5 separate regions of the Homo sapiens genome follow, and regions 2, 3, 4 and 5 are each linked to region 1. The links come from fine-mapping of genetic effects on gene expression. A gene starts in region 1. Each other region holds a variant in brackets. All regions are shown on one strand. Distances are from middle to middle. Region 1 holds the start of SYNE1 (spectrin repeat containing nuclear envelope protein 1). Region 2 overlaps SYNE1 (spectrin repeat containing nuclear envelope protein 1). Region 3 overlaps SYNE1 (spectrin repeat containing nuclear envelope protein 1). Region 4 overlaps SYNE1 (spectrin repeat containing nuclear envelope protein 1). Region 5 overlaps SYNE1 (spectrin repeat containing nuclear envelope protein 1).

Region 1 (5,109 bases):
AGAGGACCTCGCAGAGGCGTTTGGGCCCTGCATGCCTGTCACATTCAGACCACAGGGTGTGGCTGCAGTAGCTAGAGCTGGAGTTGTGAAAATGCCACCAACCTTGCCCAGTTATGGGCTTCCTACATCCTGTGACAGTCACACCTCCTTTCATTTCCAAGATGCTGTGTGTGCAGCATAGTTATCAGAAAGTAGGCCCAGTGCAGCACCAAACAATTCTTGAACATTTTTAAATGGCAAACTAGCTTTTTCCAATCTCCTCTCCCTGGCAGGAAGGACTCAAGTAAAAAAGAGTTCTTAAATGAGGTCAATGAGGACAGAAGAAAACCAGTTTGTGAAAATCATTAGTTCAGAAAGATGAAAGTGAGACTATAAAATAAGAGCTAGGCAAATATTTCCAAAGCCTAGCAAATATTGTTATCTGGGTCAGTCTGAAGCTGTTTCTTAATCTTCAGCATGAAACATATTAAGTTAGTATAGATCTCTCACATTTTGTTCTAAATCTGCCACAAAGTAATGAACAGAAAAGAAAAAATAGATATGTATTTTGTCACACTGTTCCGGTGATATCAGGAACTTTTTAGCCATACTACAAATCTTTTTTCACCATGGGGAATAAAAAGCCTCTCAAAGAACAATCGTCATGACTCGTGATTAAATTCGCATTTTATGAAGATGTAGGTCATATTAATGACCTTTGCCTCATTGAAAATTATTATACTTTCTCTTGCATAGGTCTGGCTTCTGTATACGAATGTTGTCTTTAGGAAAGTCATTCTCAGATGAAGACAAAAAATGGATGGGCATTAAAGAAGAGAAAAATAATTCATTTTTAACTTTCTTAACATTCACAGGAACATTTCAGATACAAGTTTTCCACCCCAAAACGAAAAGCTCAGAAATGAACATTGTGGGATGCTAAGGCTTCATTGCTGATATTTCCCTCTGGGCTGGACCTGACTCTATTTACGGAAGGGGGCAGAACTTCCAGCATCCAAAGTCTGGGATCCCAGTCAGCACACCCAGCCTGCCTTCCCAAGGGGCTTCTTCCTGTGCGGCTGATGGCTGCTTCGTTTTGCACGGATGCCTGCCCGTTGGGATGCACCTGGCCGCCTGTGCACCACCATTTCCCAGAACTCCTCCGCCAGCAATGCAAGATCTCTCTATGTGAAACGTATCTTTATAAAGAGGAGACGAAAGTTCTCTTGCCCTCTAGTGCAGGCTCTGCCGGGAAGCAACTGCACCATGACAGCGCCGCTGGAGTCTGACGCGCCAGGGCCTCCGCGCAGCCTTCAAGCCATTTCCCTCCCCCAGCCCTTCCTAAAATAGTCAGGGGGTGGAGGAAGGGAGGCTCCTAGAATCTGTTCAACGCCCTACCTCTCCCATCTGATAGTAGCAACAGTACCGACCATCACAATAAGAGGCTGGCTGCCTTTTGCTTCTGCACCATTGGAGCCCAGGAGATGTGCCACAAGCGGAAATGACAACTCAGAGAGGGGGATATTAATAGGGACATCTACGTACGAGATGCAAAGAGGCTCCCCAACCTCCTAGTCTCCTTATCTATGAGTATCGCACACGTACACACATCACTGCCACCACCCCCTCCCATCAAGCACGCAGAGCCCCAGCGTGCAGGCACAAACTTGCTGACAATTTGTCTGCAATGTGTTCGTCTTGCACCTCTCTCTCCTCTCCCTGTCTCTGTCTCTCCCTGTCTCCCAGTCTCTGTCTTTCCTTTTACCTTCTCTCTCGGCCTCGTTCAGTTTCCCAGCAGCAAGGCGAAGCGAGCGAACGCTTCCTCCCGGCTCTCTGCGCCCAGGCTCGGCGGGACCCCGGGGATGCGCGGCTGTCCGCCCGCCCTGTCGCCGGGATCGGGCGCGGTCTGCAGGACTGCGGGAGCCCAGCCGCCCTGGTGACAGAGGACAACAATCTCAGCCCGCTGCGGCCGGCGGCCGCGGCCCGGCGCCCGCGCTCACCCTGGCTGGCTCGCCCACACTCACTCCCGCGCCGGGCTGCTCAGCCGCGCTCCCCGCCCTCCGCGACCGGTTCCTCCTCCCGGCTGCTCGCTGGGGGGTGAGGCCTCCCCCTTCGCCCTCCCCCACGCATCTACTGCTCCTGTCGGGAAGGAAGGTCGCCCAGGCCGGTTCAGCCTCTGGGCAGGGTCCCTGCACCGCCCTGGCCCGCCACACCCCCTCCCCGGCTCCGTGCCCCGCGCCCCGCGCCCGGCTCCGGGATGCGCCGGTGCCTGGAAGAGCTGGGGGCGGGGACCCGGAGGCTCGCAGGCTTCCCTACCTCCTGGAGATGCACGGCCTTGGGCGTTTCTCCGCAGCTGCAAAGCTGTGCTGTGACCCACCCGCTCAGCGAGCCTTTATACCGGGACCACCTCCCGGGGGTCGAGGTGGGAAGGAAATGTCCCTGAGAGCCGGGACGCGCTGCCTCCGCTGCCTGGAGGAGCTGCGCTGTCCTGCCAGCTAACTTTTGCCCACGGTTTCCACTGCCCGGGTGACCTTTCTGAGCGGAACCTATCCTGAAAGGCTGGGAGGTTCCCTGATGGTCCCAGGAAGGGCGTGATGCAGAGCAAAGAGCAAAACCCGCTGGCTCCTTTTTCATCAACTTCCGAAAGATCCTAAATCGTTTTGGCTGCCAAGTCAGTAGCAAATAACTTAATTTGAGGGAGACTGGTCAGGCTTTATAGATCTTTTTTAATGTTATGTATAAAGTTTAGACTTCTTGAGAAAGCGCTTGACATCTTTAATTCTTGACTGTTTATTATGATGATTCTAAAAACCACTTTTAGGTTCTTCAGGTGCACTGTATGCACCCTGTACATTGCGGAGCCATTTGTATCTTTGGCCACAAGTCCTTCTCGTGGTGTAAGAGATCTTGGTGTTGCCTGGTAGCATTCAGGAGAATTTATTTTGTTGTGGTTTTATGGTATCCAGGCAAAGTCAAACACAGTCTCTCTTCACCAACAGTGAAGTCCAAGTCCAACAGGATGATTGCAGCTAAAATAATCGAAGCCATGTTGCAATAATCTTAAAAGTAATAATCCCCCCCTTGAATCTCCAATCTGAACAAAACAGTCATTTATCCTCTAAATTTGCTGAAAGGAAGGAGCAGTTTATAAAGTAGATGAAGTTTCTCTTTGCTGCCTGCCTTTCCCTTACCTGCTGCCAACATTCCCACTGCCTAGCTTTCCATTTTCTTCAAATTCTCCTTCTTCTGGATCGTGTCAAAATAATAACATCTGAAACAAATCTGGTAAACCAATCTGATGTGTTCCTCTTCTTTGTGCTGACTTTTGTTTTTTTTTAGAGAGAGAAACCAAACAATGGATCTCTATTTGCAGAACTTGCTACCTCCAAAAGTTGGGCCTGGAGGAGGAGTGTTTGGGATCACTCTCAATGTATGCCCTGCCTCTGCCTGAGGGCAACAATCCTGGGGCACCCCCAGAGCCCCTTGTGGAGACAACCACCAGAGCATAATTATTCCAGGTCAGCCCTCTGTGCCCAGTGGCCACAAAATGGGGTCCAGATTTCCAGGCTTGCCACTCAGAAGAAACAGATCAGAATGGCTCAGCTCACCCTCTCAATCCCTACCTTCATAGAATCAATCCACCCTGCCGGCTTTTGAAGATGGGTAGAAAGTTATTGTGCCAACTTTGCCATTCTTTTTGTTTGTTTGTTTGTTTGAGATGGAGTTTCGCTCTTGTTCCCCAGGCTGGGGTGCAATGGTGCAATCTCGGCTCACTGCAACCTCCGCCTCCCAGGTTCAAGCAATTATCCTGCCTCAGCCTCCTGAGTAGCTGAGATTACAGGGATGCGTCACCACACCTGGCTAATTTTGTATTTTTAGTAGAGACAGGGTTCCTTCATGTTGGTCAGGCTGGTCTCAAACTTCCGACCTCAGGTGACCCATCCAGCTCGGCCTCCCAAAGTGCTGGGATTACAGGTGTGAGCCACTGCACCTGGCCACCAACTTGCTATTCTACACGTTAAGCAACTACTTTCTTGGGTTTACTTACTTGAGAAGTGAGCCACTTAAAACACAAGCCTGAAACATTGCTTCCACCAACTAAAACTCCTCTACTAGGCCTAATCTCTGTTCTCACAGGCTGAGACAGACAGAAGCATAGAGCTGTCTTGCTGGCATTGATTCCCTATACAGCTGAAATCCCATTCTCAGCTAAACTTTATCCTCTGTAGAAGGACTAAGCACATTTTAGAGTTTTGCAAAGGGCTTGTCAGTTTCACACACCCCAGGGAAGGGTGTTGTAGCTCCATTTACTCAACAGCTATTGCTTGAACACTTACCACATAACAAATATTGTCCTAAGTGCTGGGGCTACCGTGGTAAGCAAACTCTGACCGGGCTCTTGCCTTCATGGAGCTTACAGTATGATGGGGGAAGAGCCAGACATTCATCAGAGAACCACACAAATACTTATAAAACCCCATTCTCCAAGCAAAGGCAAATGTTGCTATGAGAGCTTTCAAGAACGGGAGTTGGCCAGGCATGGTGGCTCACACCTGTAATCCCAGCATTTTGGGAGGCCAAGGCAGACAGATCACTTGAGGACAGGAGTTCGAGACCAGCCTGGCCAACATGGTGAAACCCCATCTCTACTAAAAATACAAAAATTGGCCAGGCACGGTGGCTCATGCATGTAATCCCAGCACTTTGGAAGGCCGAGGCAGGCAGATCACAAGGTCAAGAGATCAAGACCAGCTTCACCAACATGGTGAAACCCCATCTCTACTAAAAATATAAAAAATTAGTTGGGCATGGTGGCGCATGCCTGTAGGCCCAGCTACTCAGGAGGCTGAGGCAGGAGAAACACTTGAAGCTGGGAGGCGGAGGTTGCAGTGAGCCAAGATTGCACCACTGCACTCCAGCCTGGCGACAGAGTGAGACTCTGTCAAAAAAAAAAAAAAATAGCCAGCGTGGTTGTAGGCGCCTATAATCTGAGCTACTCGGGAGGCTGAGGCAGGATAATTGCTTGAACCTGGAAAGCGAAGGTTGCAGTGAGCTGAGATCGTGCCACTGCACTCCAGCCTGGGTGACAGAGCAAGACTCAGAAAAAAAAAAAAGGAGGGGAATTAATTT
Region 2 (5,109 bases), 70 kb before region 1:
ATGCCACCACACCTGGCTAATTTTTGTATTTTTTGTAGAGACGGGGTTTTGCCATGTTGCCTAGGCTGGTCTTGAGCTCCTGAACTCAAGTGATCTGCCCACCTTGGCCTCCAAAAATGCTAGGATTACAGGCGTGAGCCACCGTGCCTGGACAGGAACGTTTATTATAACATCAAATTTGTTAACCCCCAAAAGTTTGCTTATAAAAAATGTTAACTATTCTCATGATTTCTAGGGAAAAAAAAATCAAACTCACTCTTCAGTAGAGGCCAAAAGAAATATGAATTTCCTCAACAGACTTTGGGGTCTAGGAGTGCAACAGATCCGACTCGGGATCCCAGCATCATCATTTACTGCGAGAATTTCAAAAGGTGACTTAGCCACTTTATAGCTTCATTTAGCCATATGTAAACTAGAGACAAAAATAATAATGAAAACCTCCTAGAATCACTGTAAATATTAAGTTAGATATTTTATGTAAATGCTGTGTCCAACACTTATCACATAGTATTCATTCATCAATAAATGTTAGTTACTTGTTATACTTGTTTTTACTCTTATTGATTTAAACATGATAGCAGCAATTAACTTCTCTTAAGGGAATAGAACAGACCATTGCTTTCTTTTATTATTAGAATATGTATTTAATAAAGACAGGGAAGCGAAGAAGTTTCTAGAAGCCAGGAGAAACCTGATCATTAATTTATGTGGTTCCTTTTGCCTCCACTAGCTTCAACACTAAGAAAGAGGGCCTCTTGTGGAATTTAGACATTCAAAGGTATATTTACTGAGCAAATCCAAATCATTGGTTTCAATTTATCTTGACATGTTCAGGCCAATTAAGTTAGTTAATTACTGGGAATAAAGTAATCCTGAATCCTTAAAAGCTGGGCCCACAACCTAGTATTCATTCCTAAGGGCTAGCAGATTTGTCCTCCAGTATGGCATATGCAGCAATTTAAAGTCAGGGAAAAGTATGGACTTATTAATACTCTTTGGCATTTACTGGCACTGCTATTTACCCTCTATTACGTGCTAAGTGTCTGACGACCCAATACCCATATATTCAACATTAAATCTTCAACCTTATAATTCTTGAAATTCTCATTTGGTATTCACTCAAGACCCAGAAAAGGGTCAAAGGTTGCTAAACTTTACTTCGCTTTAAAATCTTCCCTTATTCAGACAAGTTCCCTGCTGAAGTTTAAAAAAAAAAAAAAGGAGGCTCTAAGGAAGGGCATATTTCTAAAAAACTGAAAAAATAAGAGGGAGATGGTTTTCAGTTGTTTTACAAATAGGATTTCTTGTCCTTTTCAATTTCTCACTTAAGCCTTATTTCCATTTGGAAATCCAGCTACTCAGTGCCAACTAAGGGGGAGGAACTGTGGGGTTTAAAAGTTAGAATAAACATCGTTTGTAGCCTTAAATGAGGACCAGTCTTCTTAAATGACTCAAGAAACATTTACTGCACACAAATTATGTGCAAAGCACTGACTACATACATGGGTGATGGGAGCAGAGGGCACAGGGGCAAGGAGAAAAATAAGATACAAAACCTAAACCTAATGTCCTTGTAAACTTAGTTCCTTTACATCCTTGAAAAATTATTTTTTTCTTCCACAGCACTACAGCTGTGTATAGGGAAAAACAGGGGAAGAAGAACCAAGCAAATGTAGCAGCTTCTAGCTCCTTACCCCTCCAGTGTTGAACCTGGGGTGTGTGTGAAAAACCAAGGTTAAGCATCACAGCCCACTGAGATAAGAGTGAAGGAACAAGGGATGACGCAAGGTAACACAGAGATGCTGGCAGGTTTGAGAAAAACATGTTCTCGCTTCTCAAGCTGAAGCGAGCAACTAGCATGACCTTTCTTTGTATTTTCGTTTTGCAGTGTCAAGGGCAATGTTGTTTCTTTTCAGGAAGAAACAATACCAGCTTTGAGAAAAAAAA[T/C]CCACATTAAAAAAAAATAGCAGCTATTAAGAAGTGTGAGAGGAAGGAGGTGCAGAGGGGACACAGGAAGATCCAAGAGCAGCAAAATATAGGTTCAGAGGCAATTTGAGTCCAATCCACCACCTTTCAAATTAAATTAAAAGCATGGTTAAAAGAGCATTTTTGGCACAAAATCTTAAATTCACGGTGCTGTAGGATAAGGCTTAGTGGGATTATCAACAGAGTGTGGATGCCAAATGGACATCAGGCAGGAAGAGAAACCACAGATGCATTTTCAGCAAGGTGTCTTTATAGGATTACTCCACCTAGAGCTTGGCCTGACTCAAATATTAATTTCACAAACAACCGCAGTTGTAAGAGTGACTTCCATTATTTAAGGGCCTAATCTCGGGTAGAATAACAATCCACAAACACTTTTTTTGTGGCACTGCCAAGCATCTTTTGTTTTTCAACATATGATTTTAAACATTAACTTGTTATTGTATATATTTAAGTTGTATTACATGATGTTTTGATACACATAGTGAAATAATTACTACGGCCAAGAAAACTAACATATTCATCTCTTCACATACTGTGTGTGTGTGTGTGTGTGTGTGTGTGTGTGTGTGTGTATGCGTGTGTGGCAACTGTATACCCTTTGTCCCCCATCTCCCTAAACTGCTCCATCCCTCTGCACCTGTTAACTGCTGTTTCACTCTCTGTTTCTATGCATTTGCCTTTTTTTAGATTTACTGTTTAAGTGTCATGCAGTATTTTTCACTTAGCGCAAGTCTTCTAGGTTCATCTATGTTGTCAAAAGTCGCAGGACCTCCTTCTTTTTAAAAGCTGAATAATATTCCATTATATATATGCCACAATTTCTTCATCCATTCATTTGTAGATGGATGAATGCTAAGCATAACCATTTTAATCATTCTGTTAATAACTCAGCCAATGAAAAAGATTTTTTTCCCATTATAATATAAAACTGTACGTTATTTTGTTTTCCTAACCTACACAGTGCTTACATGTTTCTTTAATAGTAAAGATCGTAATTAGCCTATAGTGAAGTATATATAACAGATAATTTGGATGCTTCTATTGATTTTTTTGTCTCCATTATTACCACTGAGTCCTTCTACCATCTGCTGAAGCAAAGGCAACAGAGAAGAATAAAAGAAGAACAGAGTATTTTTTCAACTGCCATGATGTCTCCAGCCTGAAACTCTCCTTCTATTCCAATGCTAACTAGTTATTATAGCAGTAACTTTGCACTTACAGATTTTTGTGCAAAATCCAAGAAAAAAAAGTAATCTTTATTGTCAAAAAATAGCTTCCTGGGTGCTTTCTGGAGAAAAGGAGGGCGGTCTGACTTCCTCATGTAGAAAATCTCAGATATGAAAAGGAAAAGTAACAAGGGAAGGGAACACATTGCTTGTCCTATCAAATATTAAAAATAAAATGTAAAAGGTGCATTAATTAAAGCAATGTGGTAACAGAGAAAGAACACACCATAGAATGCAATGAAATACACAGTCCAGAAAGAGACTTGTGTCTATCTAGACAAAATGAGAAAGATCATTTGATGAATAGTTTAGGGAAAACTAGAGGGCAAATGAAAATAGAAAAAAAAATCATTGAGAACCTCTCTTTACACCAAAATAAATACCAAATGGTTTAGGGAATTAAAATAAACTATAACAACTACCTGAAAATATAGTAAATATGCTTAATAATGAAGACAGACATTTTAGGCCTAAAAATAACTAAAGAGGAATAGGTTTCATTGCATAAAAATCAAAAATACATATCCAACATATTATAAACATAAAGGCAAAGAGTATAGTGGGAAAATATGTGCTAAAAATATGAGTTAAATTTTTATTTTATTTTATTCTTTTTTTTTTTTTTTTTTTTTTTTTGAGATAGCATCTCTCGCTCTTTTGCTCAAGCTGGCTGAAGTACAGTGGCGAGATCTCGGCTCACTGCAACCTCTACCTCCTGGGTCCAAGTAATTCTTGTGCCTCAGCCTCCCAAGTAGCTGGGACTACAAATGCGTACCACCACACTCGGCTAATTTTTGTATTTTTAGTAGAGATGGGGTTTCACCATCTTGGCTAGAGTGGTCTTGCACTCCTGACCTCAGTTGATCCACCTGCTTTGTGCTCCCGAAGTGCTGGGATTACAGGCATGAGCCACTGCACCTGGCCTATTTATTTACATTTAGAGACAGGGTCTCTCTATGTACCCAAAATAGAGTGCAGTGGCTATTCATGGGTGCAATCAGCACACTGCAGCCTCCAACTCCTCGTCTCAGGGATCCTCCTGTCTCAGACTCCTGAGTAGCTAGAACTACAGGCTCTTGCCACTGCACCTGGCTTAGAATTTTAAATAAAATCAATGAGAAAAATTTTCAGTCCCATTACATTTGTAAGCAAAGATATGGACCAGCAATTCACAAAATGGTCTTTAAAACATATGAAATAAAGTTTTACATTATTCAATTTAAAAAACAATGAGATAAGCATAATATCCAGGGGTAACTTTTAAACAAAAAGAAAGAGATTTTGAGCTGTAATAAGTTGCCATTTTTGAAAGCCAGTATTTTTAACTCTTATAATGAAGATTAAGTAACATTAATGAATTAGTTCTTTATTGCTCCTAGTCTCAGTATTATCATACATCAGTGGTCCTTAAAGTGCCCAGAGCAGCAGCATCAGCACCACCTGGGAACTTGTTAGAAATGTAAATTCCTGGCTCCAATCCTGACCTACAGAAGCAGATCAGCAATCGGCTTTAACAAGATACCCAGGTGATTCTTATGCACAATCAAATTTTGGGATCACTGTATGGATCATAAGCTGTAGAAAATTTTGTGGTGCAGTGGTTCCCAGCATGCATCCAATTTCCTGGGTTTAGTTTAATCATCACCTTATGGGCAAGTTATCTAGATTCTCCTTTCAGTTTCCTCATCTGTGAAATGGAGGTAATGATGGCACTTGCCTCATAAGGTTGTTGGTAGGATAACAGAAGTTTATGTTTGAAAAGCATATGTATCAGTGCTTATATAGCTTAGCCCATTGTTAAATTTAGATTTTTTTAAGTAAGTTTAATAAAGAAGAGAAAAGACCATATTTTAAAGATTTAAAAGTAAAGATAATCAATAATTACACTGTGAGA
Region 3 (5,109 bases), 53 kb before region 1:
AGTTCAAAGGTAAGATCTCCCATAATATCATCATATCTGGAAGTTCTCTTTCCCTTCTCTGTAGCACCTTGTCTTAAACATTCTCATAGTATCTCTCACATCTCTCCTTGTAATAACAATATCATTACTTACCTAGTCCCACTCACCCCCTAAAAGTATTCAAATATGTGTATATATACATGTGTGTGCATGAGTGTGTACACACACTGAGTTAAATTTTAAGTCAAATTTATATATATACACACACACATATATTACATATTACATATACATGTTGCCAGCTTAAAATGGGTTACCAGTGCTCAAAACTTTTTACATATATATAAATAAATATATATATAACTTTATTTTATTTTAGATCCATGGGGTACATGTGCATGTTTGTCACAAGAGAATATAAGGTACTGGTGGAGACTGGGCTTCTAGTGTACCCATTACCCAAACAGTGAAAACTATCTGATAAGTTATTTTTCAATCATCAGCCTCCTTCCATCCTTCCCTTTTTTGGAGTTTTCAGTGTCTATTACTTCCATCTTTTTTTAAAATTACTTCATCTTTGTTAAAGAGTATACTGGCCACTTACATATATTGTGGCCTTTTCAAAATTTGCTGAAATCTGTAATTCTACAATATAAATTTATTTCATAATTTCTAAATACTTTGTAGAAGGTTGCAATCATATTTAAAATTTTTCATCAGAGTATTCTATTTAGTAATTGTTTTGCTATGAATACAGACAAAATCATGAAGTGCTATTAAAATCAAGTGGTCACTTTGTTGGAGTGGAGAGATTCTGAAGTGTTATAAATCTTATACATTTTATAATTATTTTATTGACAAAGACCAATAAATAAGCTGCTACTGAGTAATATAAAAGTTACTTTGCACCAAAGGGAATACATTAAATATATATTTTGAGTTACCTTTGCTCAGATCCTAAATCAGTGACCCTCATTAAGGAACCACTGTGTGTTGGGACTTCTAGTGTGCCCCGGCTTCATGCGTCACATCCTAAAATGAAGGTCACTCAGGGTGGAGGGGCCTTTAGGATCATCACAACTTTCCCTTTCTCACACCCTCAACCCATATCTGCCTCCCTGGGAGGACAGGCTTTGCAGTGACATCTCTATCATTACTAGTTGGGCATCATTACCTCACTGTACTGAGCCCCATTCCCTTATTATGAGGATAAAAATAGTGTCACCAGCTTTCTAAGGTTACTGTGAGGATTGTGCAGAAAAATAGGAAATCTATAAATGTTGCCTGTTTTATTACAACAATTCCAATGTGTGGGACCTTTATCAGAAAACTTAGAGAAACAGAAGACGCCTTACTTCCAGAGACTGGTAAAATAGGCTGTGTCTGTTTTTACAGGTTCCAGAATTTCTCCTACCTCAAATCCCCCTATCAGCCTCCAATCCCCTGAAAGCTGGCAGTGACTCAGATGAGCCTGTCAGTCTGGAATCAATGGTTCATTTCTGCTGTAAAAGGGACATTGGAAGAGAGCACTATGCCTCACTGGTCATTTGACTGAATTTATCAGCTCTTTTCCTGAGAGCAAAAGTGGGAGAATTAGACTCGGGTGGGCCTGCGGCAGAGAGTAAAAAAGCAGGGATGGACTGGAGGTGAGGAGTCCTAACAAATATGTTTATCCTACTCAACATTACCTAAAAACTAGATATAGCCACACAAGGAAGGAGAAAAACATCTCTTCTGTGTGCATCTTTGCGATGGATTTAGAGGCAATGTATAGGAAGGCATTATTGCCTGGGGGTTATGAACAGAAGCTCTGGTACCAGACTGCCTGCTTTCAAATCCTGGCACTGGCACTCCCTAGCTCTGTGATCTTTGGCAGATTATGACACTTGTGCCTCGATACCCTTATCTGCTAAATCGGGGAGCACAATAATTAAAGTTTTCCTTAGGGTTCTGGTGAGATTTAAATAAGATGACACATGTCATATACACTTGCAGTAGTGCCTGGCCACAAAGTTTCAATAAATATGGAGAGAGAGAGAGAGAGACAGAGAGAAAGAAAGAGATCACAAAATCGGATCATACTATACTTTAACTTTTTATACTTAATTTAGTGTGATTTATAATTTATAATCTAAGTAGAGATAACCCAAAATACATATTTAATGTATTCCCCTTGGTGCAAAATAACATCTGCTTCTCTGTATCCCTACTTATTTTATTTATTTATTTTGTTTTTTGAGACAGGGCCTTGCTCTGTCACCCAGGCTGGACTGCAATGGCGCTGTCAGACCTCACTGGGACCACAGTAGCTGGGACCACAGGTGTGTACCACCATGCCCAACTAATTTTTTTGATTTTTAGTAGAGACGAGGTCTCGCTACATTGCCCAGGCTGCTCTACACTTCTGGGCTCAAGTGATCCTCCCTCCTCACCCTCTCAAAATGCTGGGGTTACAGGCATGAGCCACTGCACCCGGCCTTATACTTTTCATATCTTATTTAATATAGCAAGTTAACGTAATATTTATATGTAACCCTACACTCTTGTGAAGAAAATATGCAGAAAATATTTCTGGAATAAAAATGTATACATGCTTCTGCATCTTCACGTTACATTACATTTAAATCTTCATCATATTTTAATAGCTGCATAATGTTGCATGGTATGAATGCATTTTTCTATTCATAAAGAGTTCCTTATAGGGAAACATAAGATGTTTTTAGCTGATATGGCTTGGCTATGTCTCCATCCAAATCTTATCTTGAATTGTAGTTCCCGTAATCCCTACGTGTCATGAGAGGGACCCGGTGGGAGGTAATTTAATCATAGGGGTGGTTATCCTCATGCTATTCTGCTAATAGTGAGTGAGTTCTCATGAGAGTTGAGGGTTTTATGAGGGGCTTTTCCCCTATTGCTCGGCAGTTCTTTCCTTGCTGCCGCCATGTGAAGAAGAACGTGTTTGCTTCTCTTTCTGCCATGACTGTTAAGTTTCCTGAGGCCTCCCCAACCATGCTGAACTGTGAGTCAATTAAACTTCTTTCCTTTAT[A/G]AATTACCCAGTCTCAGGTATGTCTTTATTAGCAGCATGAGAACAGACTAATATACTAGCATTATCAAAAATGTTGCAATTAACAACTTTGTGGTCTAGTTTTGCATGCAAATGCAAATAGATCCGTGGGATAAAATCATAGAAACAAAATTACTGACTCAATGTTTATGCACGTCTCTAATTGGAGGAATATTGCCTAAGTGCAGATGTTTTCGTCTTTTGCCTATTTTCTACTGACTGGTTTTCCTTTTTGTAATGATTTATAAAGACCTTTGTCTATTACAAAATTATATAACTTCTGTCATATTTGTGACACATTTTTCTCCAACTTTCTCATTTGCTTTTTATTTATACATTTTGTTGTGCAGATATTTTTAGGCACTGAAATGTACAAATCAGTTTCTTTTTGGTTCTGGGTTTCTGACAAGCTAAGAAAGGATTTCCCCATTACTAGATTATAAAAGAAAAAGAAAAACACCGCCATGATTTTTAAAATAGTTCTATGGTTTCATCTTTTAAAATTTAGGTTAAGCCATATGGAATCGTAAAAATAAGTGATTTTAGCCTACAAAATGTCAGTTGCAGACAAATGTATTTAAACCTTTGGTCTGCTTGAAATCGCATGTGTTTGTGTTTGTGTGTATGTGTGCATGTGTTTGGGGTGTCTGTGTGTGCTGTGTGAAATACAAAGACATGAGGTAATAAGTCAGCTCCTTTCCTCTGCTTCCCTATCCAAGAGTCTCCAAATGATGACATGAATATTCTCATCTCTTACATATGTGGGCCTATTTTGAACTACATATTCCACCCTGAGTATATATATGTCTAAATTACTATGGTTGGCAAGTATATTCCAATATCTAATAGAATTAGGTTTCCCTCATAACTCTTCTTTTGTAGACTTTTTTCTATATACCATATAATGTTTATTTTTCTGAATTAATATAATTATTTCTAACAATTCAAATTTTTTAAAAGTCTTGCTCAAGAGTGCAATTTTAGCTTAATTTGTTATCTGACATCTTTATTGTGAGTTTTCTTGTCCAGGAACAAGTTATGTCTTTCAATTTAGTCCAAGTCCTCTTCTATATATTCCTCAAAAGACTGTGTCAGATTTTTCCTCATATAATTTCTCCGCATTTGATATCTTCCACCTTCTTAAATTCTCTTGCTGTTTTTTAACAGCTTTTCAGTTAATTCCTTTATGTCTTCCAGTCATACATTGATAATATATGTAACTAATGATAGGTTTGCCATACCACTTCTAATTATTTTTGTTATTTATTTGTACCCAATTATATTGGCTGGTATGTGACTACTGACTTTGGTGGGAATGTTCTTAAAACTTAGCACTGATGCTGGCTATATACAAACATACTCTCATACACACACACACACACACACACACACACCACTATGAAGATTTTATACAAATCAGAATTAAGTGCAAATTTCATAGAACTTATTTTGCATTTGGATGGGTACAGAGTTTCTTCTTTGGGTTATTACTAAGATAAATTATATTAATATAATTCATAATATTGAATTATCCCTACATTCCTAGAAGACTCCCCCATTTGGTAACACATTACTGTATTAACAAACTGCTAAGTCTATTCTAGGTCACAGAAAATAATTGCAGCTCTATGTTGTCTTCTTCAGCCCTGATTCTCTGATGTTCTTCAGAAAGAAAATCGGTCTGTATTAGAACATTCTCCACATCTACAATGGCTTCCCATGGGCCAAGTCATATCTTTGTAAAGGGTTATTTTGGGACCATTTCGCTTATCTTTAGAGAAGTCCATATCCTAACTGAGCTTCAGAGTGGTATGTATCAGTCTTTGATGTCTTTCACTTGATCTGATCCAATTATCACTATTATTTGACAGATAGAGATACTCCTATCCTAAAGATTTGGGTAGGAGTATGATTATTTTCAAGTTTACCAATGTTGAATTTTTTCCACAATTTTTGCATTCCTTTTTGTTGCTTTTGATAAGTCTCAGGGAAAAATAAAAACATCCTTCCTTATCATCTTTTACCAGAACTCCTACACCATTATTCCAAGGGCTAGCTGCTGCTC
Region 4 (5,109 bases), 38 kb before region 1:
TCAAATACATTTGGCATTACAGACTTTCGAACTTACCAGAGCAGTTGGTTTATTTCACAAAGGACTGGTCCTCTCTAAAGGCACAGACAAAGGCACAAGCAAAAACTGCTCATCCTCTGTGCCAGGAACATGAGGGCCTCCATATGTCTGGGGAAAATGTGGGCACTAAATTGGTAGACAAAATAAAATTCAATAAGATCACTCTTACCCTCTTCTCCAATCATAGGTATTTCTCTAATAGCATAAAAAATTTTTGTTAAATTGATATGAAGTGGTAGATTTCATTTACACACACTTGCTCTGGGAGGCTCTAGATATTTTAGTAAACCAACAGACATTTGATTTTTGAGCAACATGTTTTCCCATTGAGCATATGGAGAGAAATTTATTTTTAAACATTAAATAGACGTGCATCTTACAGTAACTAAAACTACCTAAAGCACTTTCCTGTTTGCCTCAAACTTTCTTTTTTCTTAGATACAGTGTCTCACTCTAGTTTCCGAGGCTGGAGGGCAGTGACATGATCAGGGCTCACTGCAGCCTCGACCTTGTGGGTTCAAGTGATCCTTCTACCACCTCAGCCTCCTGAGTAGCTGGGACTACAGATGTGCACCACCATGTCTGATTAATTTTTTTATTTTTATTTTTTGTGGAAATGGCATCTCACTATGTTCCCCAGGCTGGTCTTGAACTCTTGGCCTCAAGTGATCCTCATGCCTTGGCCTCCTATAGTTTGGCAAGTACAAGATAAACGGCTGTTGAATTGGATTTAATTCAGCAGCCAGATATCTGCTGTGTTCAGAATGAGTGAGCACAAACTCCAGAGACCATGTGACTATTATACAATTATAGACTGCATGTCCACTGAAGAAACAGCTACTTGTAATGAATTCTTTCTTTTGTTGTAGCTATTATGAATATATTTATAAGGAAAAATCCCTAAAATACATGCTTAAATATGTAGTATATATTATAGTCAAGCGATGTTTTTCTTCTCTAGAAAATCTCCCTTTTTCTTTCGCTATAGCAACTATGGTAGTGAGTATTATTTACTTTTTATATCATGATGATTTTTATAAATACATACATATTTTCATTTTTCTAAGACTAGGAATTGATCCACGAGCTCCATCTAATTTAGTATCAGTATCACTGCATTGATGAAGTGGTAACGAAGGCACCATCCCTTATTACATTTAAACGAGGTAAGAAAAAGGAAATATTTCCTGGGCCTTAGGGAGAAAAAAGCTCAGGCTCAGATATACAGATTCAGAAACTGATATGGTTTGGCTGTGTCCCCACCCAAATCTAATCTTGAATTATAGCTCCCGTGATTCCCATGTGTTGTAGGAGGGACCCGGTGGGAGGTAATTGAATCATGGGGTCGGGCCTTTCCTGCGCTATTCTCATGATAGTGAACAAGTCTCACGAGATCTGATGGTTTTATAAAGGGGAGTTTCCCTGCACAAGCTCTCTTATCTTGCCTGCTGCCATGTGAGACGTGTCTTCCACCTTCCACCATTATTGTGAGGCCTCCCCAGCCACGTGGAACTGTGAGCCCGTTAAACCTCTTTCTTTTGTAAATTGCCCTGTCTAGGGTATGTCTTTATCAGCAGTGTGAAAACTGACTAATACAGAAACTGAATATACACATTAAAATATTAAAACAATTCTTCTTTAAGTAATTTAATTAAGTCACATTTGCCAGTTTTTCATAAACTCAATGGTCTCTTAGCAATACTTCCCATAATGAATCAGCTTCAAGAGTTTCAAAATAGCATCATGGGAATGTGGTGTCCTCTTCATTTGCAAAGTTAAAAGAAAGTCTGCCATTTGTAGAGTGCAAGAAGGGACAATGTGGCAATTAGTCATCACAGTTGATGAATCTGAAGAATTCAAAATTCTTGAATCTGGGTAAGTCTGGTCTTTGTATGCAGAAACAGAAGCAGGTAACATATAAATATACATTCAATATGTGATCTATCTGACAGATAATACAATAGCCAAGAAGAGTATTTTATGATATAATTAACAGTGTTATTTTTCATCTAGCTGTGCTTCCATGTTAATCCAGATGTTTTGCTGCTGTTCATCTTTGTCACAGAGAGAAGCC[T/C]AATAATAACAAATTCAAGTGATGTTATTATCTTTCTTAATAGATCAGAGGCCTCTTCTGAGTCTTATACTGTAATCAAATAGAGAACAAACATCTGGATTTAATTTTCACCCTTCTCGTGAGATAATAAACAGCACAGTCCAAGGAAATTTACTGTTTCTTTAATAATTTCAATACTACAAATTCACAGGAGAGAAAAATTATCGTTCTGAATGTATTAAAAACACTAAATCCAGCCCCTTGAGTCCTCAAATGATCACCAATTTTAAAATGGACAAGCCACTGGCTAATAATGACTACACAAGCCTGCCAAGGAAAACATCACTGCAGGCTGCTCTAGTAAGTGCTTGGAATACAGAGGAAGAATGCTCTTTGTGCAGTACTATTTGGATCTACTTATCTGATGGCATTAGGTTATCACACACCCACAGGGCTTTCCAGAATTCCTCCCACTTCCCGCCCTTGACATGCTGAGCAGTCCTACATTGGTGACACTATCAGATCAAAGAACTAAAAATGTCTTTGGTTCCCAAAGGAATAACGACAAAAGAACAATAAATGCTTGGAATTAGTGCTGTGGACACTCTGTCTACAAGAGCCAGATACATCAGGGTTTTTTGCCTAATTTTTAGATAAACATGGATAAATTGTGAAAAGTTGAAAGAGGCTTGGTCAATTCCTTTGGTAAGAATCCCAAACTACTGACTATAAAACTGCTCATTATGTAACTAAAATTCTGCTGCCTTTCTATAGTAAGAATTAAAATCCATTGGCCAGATTCATTTGAGTCAAGTGTATTCAAGGGTATTATTTTCTTTACATTGCTATGTCTTCTATTGTTTACTTATCCTACAAAAGCAATGGCATTATGAAATCATATACGTATCCTATAGCATAGAAAGTCAGACACAAACACTCTAACAAGGTGCTACAAGTCAATAGATGAAGATGAACTACATGAAATGATATCTGGTAGGTGAAATGTAGAAGATGAGGTAACTGGAGACACAAGAACTACCTGGAAGGTAAAAGGTACGACTTGGGTTGAACCAAAAAATAATGTGAGACCTGAAGAGATTCAGTAAATTCTATAAAATGTCTCCCCTTTAGTGCCAACAAGAGCCAGCAAAGTCCAGTAATACTCATCAGGACTGACGACTCCATTAAATGCAGTAGCAGTTGACAAGCCCTATGACTTCACATATAGTATGTAACAAAGGCGAACAGTTTAACAGGAGGATAGCTCTGATACGGCACAAACCTCAGAAGAGGTGACGAAACAAAACAACAGATGGCGAGAGGCTAAGGAACAGTTGCCATGACCCAGGTGAGAAGGAACTGAGAGTCCAAACAGATCTCACCTATGCATGGCTTTCTTTTAGACACTGGGGTATAAAATGTATAATCCAAACAATACTTTTTACTCAAATGGCTGGTAAAGGGTGATAATTTTTTTTAAAAAGCTCACAATTTTAAAATTGTTCCTATTTTTTTAAAAAGCAAACAGAAACCTTTCTTTTTGGCATCTTCTCCTTTGTCTTACATAGAAACTTAAGTGCAGAATTTTAAGGCTGATTACGGATGAGTAGAAGCTATGGTAACTTTTTTCCCTTGGGGTTGAAGTATCTGTTTGCTGGCAAATAATGCAAAAAAGAAACAAATGGATCTGCTGAAAATCTACTTCTGTATTTCTCTCTTAACTAATGACAATCATTTAGCTCCAATTTTCATGTTCATGTTTCCCTTTCTTCTTGGCTTTGCTTCAGGTCTAAATTTTCCTTGATGTTCAGAGAAACGAAGAGATGGGAAAGAATTGGGGTCACTGGAGGAAAGTTTTCCTCTAGATGGCTCTTTATTTTATAAAGAATAAAAGAGATACAGTCAGAAAATTTTTCAGTAATTCAGAATATGAATGTATGCACTGTGAAATTAAAAACTCTTACTTAAATGAAACTACGGTAAAAATGATATTTTAGTAAAGAACTAAATGTCCAGTGAAGGTCTGAACAAACAGTTTCATCTTTTCTAGATGGGAAACATGCTGTGATTCTTCCCACGTATTTACAATGTCTTAAAGTTGCAAGCTTAAAATCAGACAATCTGGGAAGATCACTTTCCAAATCTAACAAAACAGCAAAAGAAACTTCTCCCTCTGAGAAGTGAGGAAGCTTTGCTCATTCAAATGGATATGGGATATATGCTAAATGGTTTACACCAAGCTAGGGAGCAGCCATTCAAATCAAAAGCAGAAACATTGGTAGAGTTCAACAGTGAGTCAAGTCAAATGCCTAAAAATAGGAAGCAAAGCATTTGATAATTACTGGGAGACAAGATTTATATATGATGTGATCATTGTCAAGGCCATGATCAATAGTAGACCTGGCTAGGCATAGGGTTAATTTAATTGAAGAAATTGAGGTTCACCTAATCCATGGGTTAATAAATATATTTTAGGCAAACCAAAGAAGAAGGAACAATAGGCTGAGGTTGACATTTAATTGGCAATGCCATCGAGATATCTGGTAGGGCAAAAAAGGCAAATACAAGACAGCCCAGTGTCGCCTACACAAGGTGAGGAAACTTCGCAGCAGGATTAGAATGTGGATGCCTAACTTTTCCAATATACAAAGAACCCAGGCAGGCTGCTATCCTGCTGAACAGGTATGGGTAAAAATGAAGTTCAGGCCATAGGCAGGAGGAGCCCTTAAACACCCACAGAAAACACGACAAACCATCATTGAAACGCTTGCAGAATCACTAGACTTAGCAATAGTTCTGGGAATCTAACCGGAGTTGCAGTTTGAATGGAAGTTAAGTGTCATTGAGAGGACTGGTTCCTAAGATGAGATCCCAGCAGTAGATGAAATGAGAACATCTAAACAGGAGTGAGGAGAATGTCCACTCATTACTGATTCCATATACTCAGAAGTAGGCTGTGTGTAAAAAGTGACACCTGCCTTTGAAATTCATCCCCGGGGTTCACCTGGCCATTCTCA
Region 5 (5,109 bases), 64 kb before region 1:
TCAGCACTGGGTTATTTTAGTCCTTCATCCCAACAAACTTCGGGATGGGTGGTGTGCTGCACCTATTCCCACCAGGAAGCGGGTCTTGCAGATTACTAACAGCTGTTCCCTTAATCAGAGGCAATCAAAACAATGGTATCCCCTTCCTTCTACAAATTAATAAAGGGAGCTATCTAGGAAGGTTCAGTCCTTACTATCATGGTAAGAAGTCTTTCTTTTGTAGTGTACCTCACTAAAGAGAAAGACAAACAAGCAAACAAAAAAACTCCTACTCACAGCAATAAGTAAGGTAAGCATCTATCTAGGAGCTCTCTCCTAAAGGCAGCCAGATGCGGAGGAATTCACGAGACTGCCCTGCCCAGTCTCAGAAAGGGATGCACAAAGGGGGATTCATCCCATTGCTCAGAAAGCAAGAAGGGAAGGGACTTTGCTCAGAAATCAAGCTGCTTATTTAATTTGATGTTTACTCTGGTCTTTTTTGACCTACACAGTAATACAGAGATATTTTTCAATTGACAACTTTCTATCTCAGTTACTTAGTTTCAATAAATTTAACCTGTAAACATTACCTTACAATGTGTTCCATTCTGAGGTTTCTTTTAACCCAATGGAATAGAAATGACCCCTACTTGGTTTGTCTTCTGAGATTGCTTAAGAACAGGAAGCAAAGTACTGATTACTAGGCTTGCTTTTAAAATAACAGCCTTGGCAATGATCTCTAGCTGAGAACTGGCACTTGTGTTGACTCTAGGTCTTCAGAAAAGGAAAATCAAGGGAAGAAAGAAAAATTCAATGTGCAGAAACAAACAAACAAAAAATGCCAGCAATTTCTGAAGGAATGGAGAATACATGTATATGAATCCTGTAGCACCACGAAATTTAGAGCTACACACCTACAATCCTTCAGAGGCATTTCATGACAGCTGCATGATGAAGGGGGAGGATTTATATTTAATTTCTATATGTGTATACTTTTTACCCTAAAAAAAAGGAAGGAAGAAAGCATGCAAATTAACTTCTTGTCACTAATAAAATGGTGTGATTTAACCCAAAATCCGTGACTGTAAAGTACCCACAAAGAGAAAGAAAATGGGTCTCAGGAAACAAAATTGTTTTATTATGGCTGTATCTGTATTGGGTCAATTACTGTGACGAAAGAGGCATTTTCCCTGGCAGAGAAAAGATTAACATTTTAGTGTATTTTCTTAAATAATTTAAAAAGGAAAGAGTAACATGTAACTAAATTTAGTTTTTAATCATTTTCTACTTACTTGCTATATGCAACTAACTTGTTATTTTCAATGCATTTTTTAAATTTTTCAATGCTAGTTTGTGCATCATCACAGTTTTTAAAAATTTCCTTGCCAGGAAATTATCATATTTGTAATTACAATAACAAAACTCTAGTCACTTCCTGAATTAAAGAAGGGGTTGGGGTGGGGGCAGCTTTATCACCGCAATCTTGGACTGACCTTTTGCCTGAAGCATTTGAAAAGGCAAGTAGAAATCAAATATATTTTTGCATAATGCCTACATCTTTAATGACACTTCTGAGGTGTCTGAGTGATATTTCTATTGTCATTGCATAATATAATACTTAGCATTTTACTGTAATGAAGTGTAACAATTGAGGTAATGTTACTACCATCTTACGTAAATTCAAACTTTTACAAACCAAAGTATGTTCTATTTTTGTCCATTTTGCCAATTCAGTTCTTCTCACTATTCTTAAAGGAGGGTCCATTAATTACATGTATCCAAAATGCACAACAATCTAATTAGCTGTTAGAATGACTCACTTCAGTCCTCAATGTCTTGCTTTTTGTAAAAGTGCTCATTTCCTATGACTTATGGGAGAAATTGTTTGGATTGGAAGAGCTTCAAAGCCAATAAACAGAATAAGGGGACTCCCAGAATAATAGATTTCTAGAATAAGAGCACTTTTTATGGATTAGGAAACAGCTCCAGAGTCTATGACCCGCCCAACGTCACAAAACCAGAATGTCAGTAATACTACTCATCGTTGCCAGATACTCAAAAGCTCCTCTGCAGTTGGAAAGATTCGTTCCAGAAAAAGTCTTTCCTGAAGGGCAACTCACTTTCGCTAGGGATGAAGAGTAACTTAAAAAGGAGAGAGAGCGGAGGTAAGGGGAATGAATTGGTGTAATGCCAAAAGCTGTGGAATAAAAGTTATTCCATGGTATTTGTTCATGGGTGTTGTGTGTGAATGATGTGTGTTGATGTTTTCTGGGTCATTTAGTTTATGAGGGAAGGCAGGAAAAGCCAACAGAGCATACAAAAACAAATCAGCCACAAATTCTGAAAGAGGGAGTTGCCTTTGGTCTAATAAACATTTTAGGAATGTAAACACCTTCTGGGAAGGATTCCTTCTGGGAATGTCTATTTGACATTCACACCTCATTGTCAACTGCTCGAATTAGATAACACCTTGTTGAATATCCTCAGGCAATGAAAAATTAAAGGTAAAGAAAGAGAAAGGAATACTTTTCTAAGGGCGAGGCACTTAGAGGTGGAGACTCCCCTCTGGGCATTACCTACTTGAGGTCTCTATAGAGGAGGCTGATTTTTTTTTAAATTTTATTATTATTATACTTTAAGTTTTAGGGTACATGTGCACAACGTGCAGGTTTGTTACATATGTATACATGTGCCATGTTGGTGTGCTGCACCCATTAACTCGTCATTTAGCATTAGGTATATCTCCTAATGCTATCCCCCCCCCTCCCCCCACCCCACAACAGGCCCTGGTGTGTTATGGTCCCCTTCCTGTGTCCATGTGTTCTCATTGTTCAATTCCCACCTATGAGTGAGAACATG[C/T]GGTGTTTGGTTTTTTGTCCTTGCGGTAGTTTGCTGAGAATGATGGTTTCCAAGGCTGACATTTTTAACTGAAACTGAAGAGAAGTGATGAAAAAGCAGGTTGGATTCCATTGCTCACAACTCTTCTTTCCTCAGATGACCCCAACTTACCATTCTCTAATTTTGAAAACAGGAAAAAATGTTCAAGAAGATTTAGAACCTATCTTCAAGAAATGTCAAGAATGTAATATTGGGACTCTCATAAATCATAACTTTTCTGCCTACATTTTCTGAAGATTTCCCTATAAAAGTCTGTTACCTTGACACTCTAATTCATATGCTCAAGAATTAGGTTAATTATTTTTTAAAACTTTGAAGAAAATGATCAAACTAACAGTAACAATAGCATCTACCCATCCTAAAAGAGTATGCATCATATACAGCAAACTTCTATGACTAAGAAACAAAACAGGTTCATTGTTAGATACAGCATAATAGCATCAAAGCTCTGCTTCACCTGTTGGAAGCACAGAACATATTTTAACTTTACGGGCTGTGGGAGCTGGGGGAAGCAAAAACATTAGAGATGTTCAACCAAGCTCTGAGTCATCTCTTTATGAGTTACAGATTCTTAAAAACAAATTAAATGAAGTCCCCAGCTGTAACTATGATTTGAGCCTCATAACGGGGTGAGAATGGAGAAAATGGGCCAAATCTACAGTTATGGAATATATAATGGGATATACACATATATATGTATATATATACACACATATATATATACACATAAATATATACATATATATATATATATATGGCAGATATAACAAGATAGGCCTTAGAAGTTAATTTGGTGGCAAAAGGAGTAGGTTTAGAGAGGAAATATATATAATATATATTTGTTGTTTTCGTAGATGAGATCTGGAGAGTTGCCTCAGAAACGTGTCTGCACCTCTGCAAAGGCATCCCCAAGCTCAACCCTGTGTAATTACCTCCTCTTTGCTCTTGTTCTTGCCTTTCCTTTCTGCACCTGACAGTTAATTGCTGTAATTGAACAACAAGGACTGGGATGCCCTTCCTCCTCTTGCTCTCACTTCTTTCATGACTCTCTTCAGTCTTTGTTGGTTGATTAAGCTTAAGCAGTCTGGTAATCAATCCAAATCTTATCTCATTAATTGGACTAAATGAAGCTTTGAGGGAAGGAAAGGAGATGAGCATAATAGGTGCTAAGTAAATACCGTAGTTGTTTCTCAACCATGGAAAACCCCACTTGAAGGATATACACTTTATATGTTTGCATGAAAGTATTAAGGTATTTGAAGTAACTAAGGTAATCAAAGTAATTTTCCCCAATGTATAATCTAACTTCTGTTTTTTTCAGGCACACTAACACTTTCAGATCCTTGGGACAGGCACCATTCAGTCAAATCCTTATAGAGCAGGACTCTTGAAACGTCAGTTCACTCTTAGCTGTTTTTGGTTTGTTTTTTGTTTTGTTTGTTTGTTTTTAATTTTGTTTGCTTTTCATTTCTGTGGCTTTAGGTTCTTTAAGCCACCATGGAAGTACTTATTTTAAGAGAATAACCATTGGAATTATGCTTTCTTAAGAAAAATAAATGTGAATGAATGTACCAAACATGAAATGTAAGAACTCTTCCATCTAAGCTATAATCCCATCCCTGAATGACACATGATGGTGGTGGGTACAGTTGATGAGGTTTTCTCTAACTCCGGTGGTATAGGATGGTGGTCTTCAATCTGGGAATGTAATAAATGCCCTAAAGGACTATTTCAAGGAGCAACACCTGATAAAGTTTTTCCTAATGTCATACTGCATTGAGCAGAACAATTCTGAATGAAGCTTTTATTTAGTGGTCTGGGCTGAATTACATGCCTCTAGATTTGTATCTGTCAAAATGTGTTTCATGGACGAATGACATCAGAATGCAATGCTCACTAGAGATGGAGCTTCCTGGGTTCTGCATTAGATGCCCCAAGACTCTCTGAGACAAGGCTTAGAGGTCTGCATTGGAACACACTCCTCATGTCATTCTTATCCGAACTAGAATTCAAAAACCACAGCTTTAGAATCTTAAAATAGTTGTTCAACAATTTATTTATGCAAACTGCTGAAAACATGAAAAAGAGAAGTTATATTGCATTTCACTACAGTTCAGTAATCCAATAGGCTGTTGTTCCATTTTAAGATTGTGGAGTCAACATAAATAAACATGATCTTTGCAGTCAGAACAGCCTAGATTTGCCACAACTTACTAGCTATGCAACCTTGAA

The links. PIP is the estimated chance that this variant, and not a neighbour inherited with it, causes the effect.
Region 2: its variant is the best candidate, but not a certain one, in a credible set for the expression of SYNE1 in blood mononuclear cells (TOPMed, PIP 0.85).
Region 3: its variant is the best candidate, but not a certain one, in a credible set for the expression of SYNE1 in whole blood (INTERVAL, PIP 0.83).
Region 4: its variant is the best candidate, but not a certain one, in a credible set for the expression of SYNE1 in adrenal gland (GTEx, PIP 0.52).
Region 5: its variant is the best candidate, but not a certain one, in a credible set for the expression of SYNE1 in stomach (GTEx, PIP 0.83).

The regions. Positions count from the first base shown.
Region 1 is chr6:152,634,894-152,640,002 of GRCh38, forward strand. It overlaps SYNE1 (spectrin repeat containing nuclear envelope protein 1), which reads right to left and starts at 2,469. Exons shown (of 146, transcript NM_182961.4): 1 at 2,296-2,469; 2 at 1,745-1,912. RefSeq lists an enhancer at 1-96.
Region 2 is chr6:152,564,464-152,569,572 of GRCh38, forward strand. All of the region lies in intron 3 of SYNE1 (spectrin repeat containing nuclear envelope protein 1), which reads right to left. Among named protein-coding and RNA genes, the nearest start is that of SYNE1, 70 kb to the right of the region's middle. The variant T/C (reference allele first, on the strand shown) is at 1,948.
Region 3 is chr6:152,582,246-152,587,354 of GRCh38, forward strand. All of the region lies in intron 3 of SYNE1 (spectrin repeat containing nuclear envelope protein 1), which reads right to left. Among named protein-coding and RNA genes, the nearest start is that of SYNE1, 53 kb to the right of the region's middle. The variant A/G (reference allele first, on the strand shown) is at 3,027.
Region 4 is chr6:152,596,819-152,601,927 of GRCh38, forward strand. The region is part of intron 3 of SYNE1 (spectrin repeat containing nuclear envelope protein 1); the gene reads right to left. Among named protein-coding and RNA genes, the nearest start is that of SYNE1, 38 kb to the right of the region's middle. The variant T/C (reference allele first, on the strand shown) is at 2,114.
Region 5 is chr6:152,570,589-152,575,697 of GRCh38, forward strand. All of the region lies in intron 3 of SYNE1 (spectrin repeat containing nuclear envelope protein 1), which reads right to left. Among named protein-coding and RNA genes, the nearest start is that of SYNE1, 64 kb to the right of the region's middle. RefSeq lists an enhancer at 2,117-2,679. The variant C/T (reference allele first, on the strand shown) is at 2,839.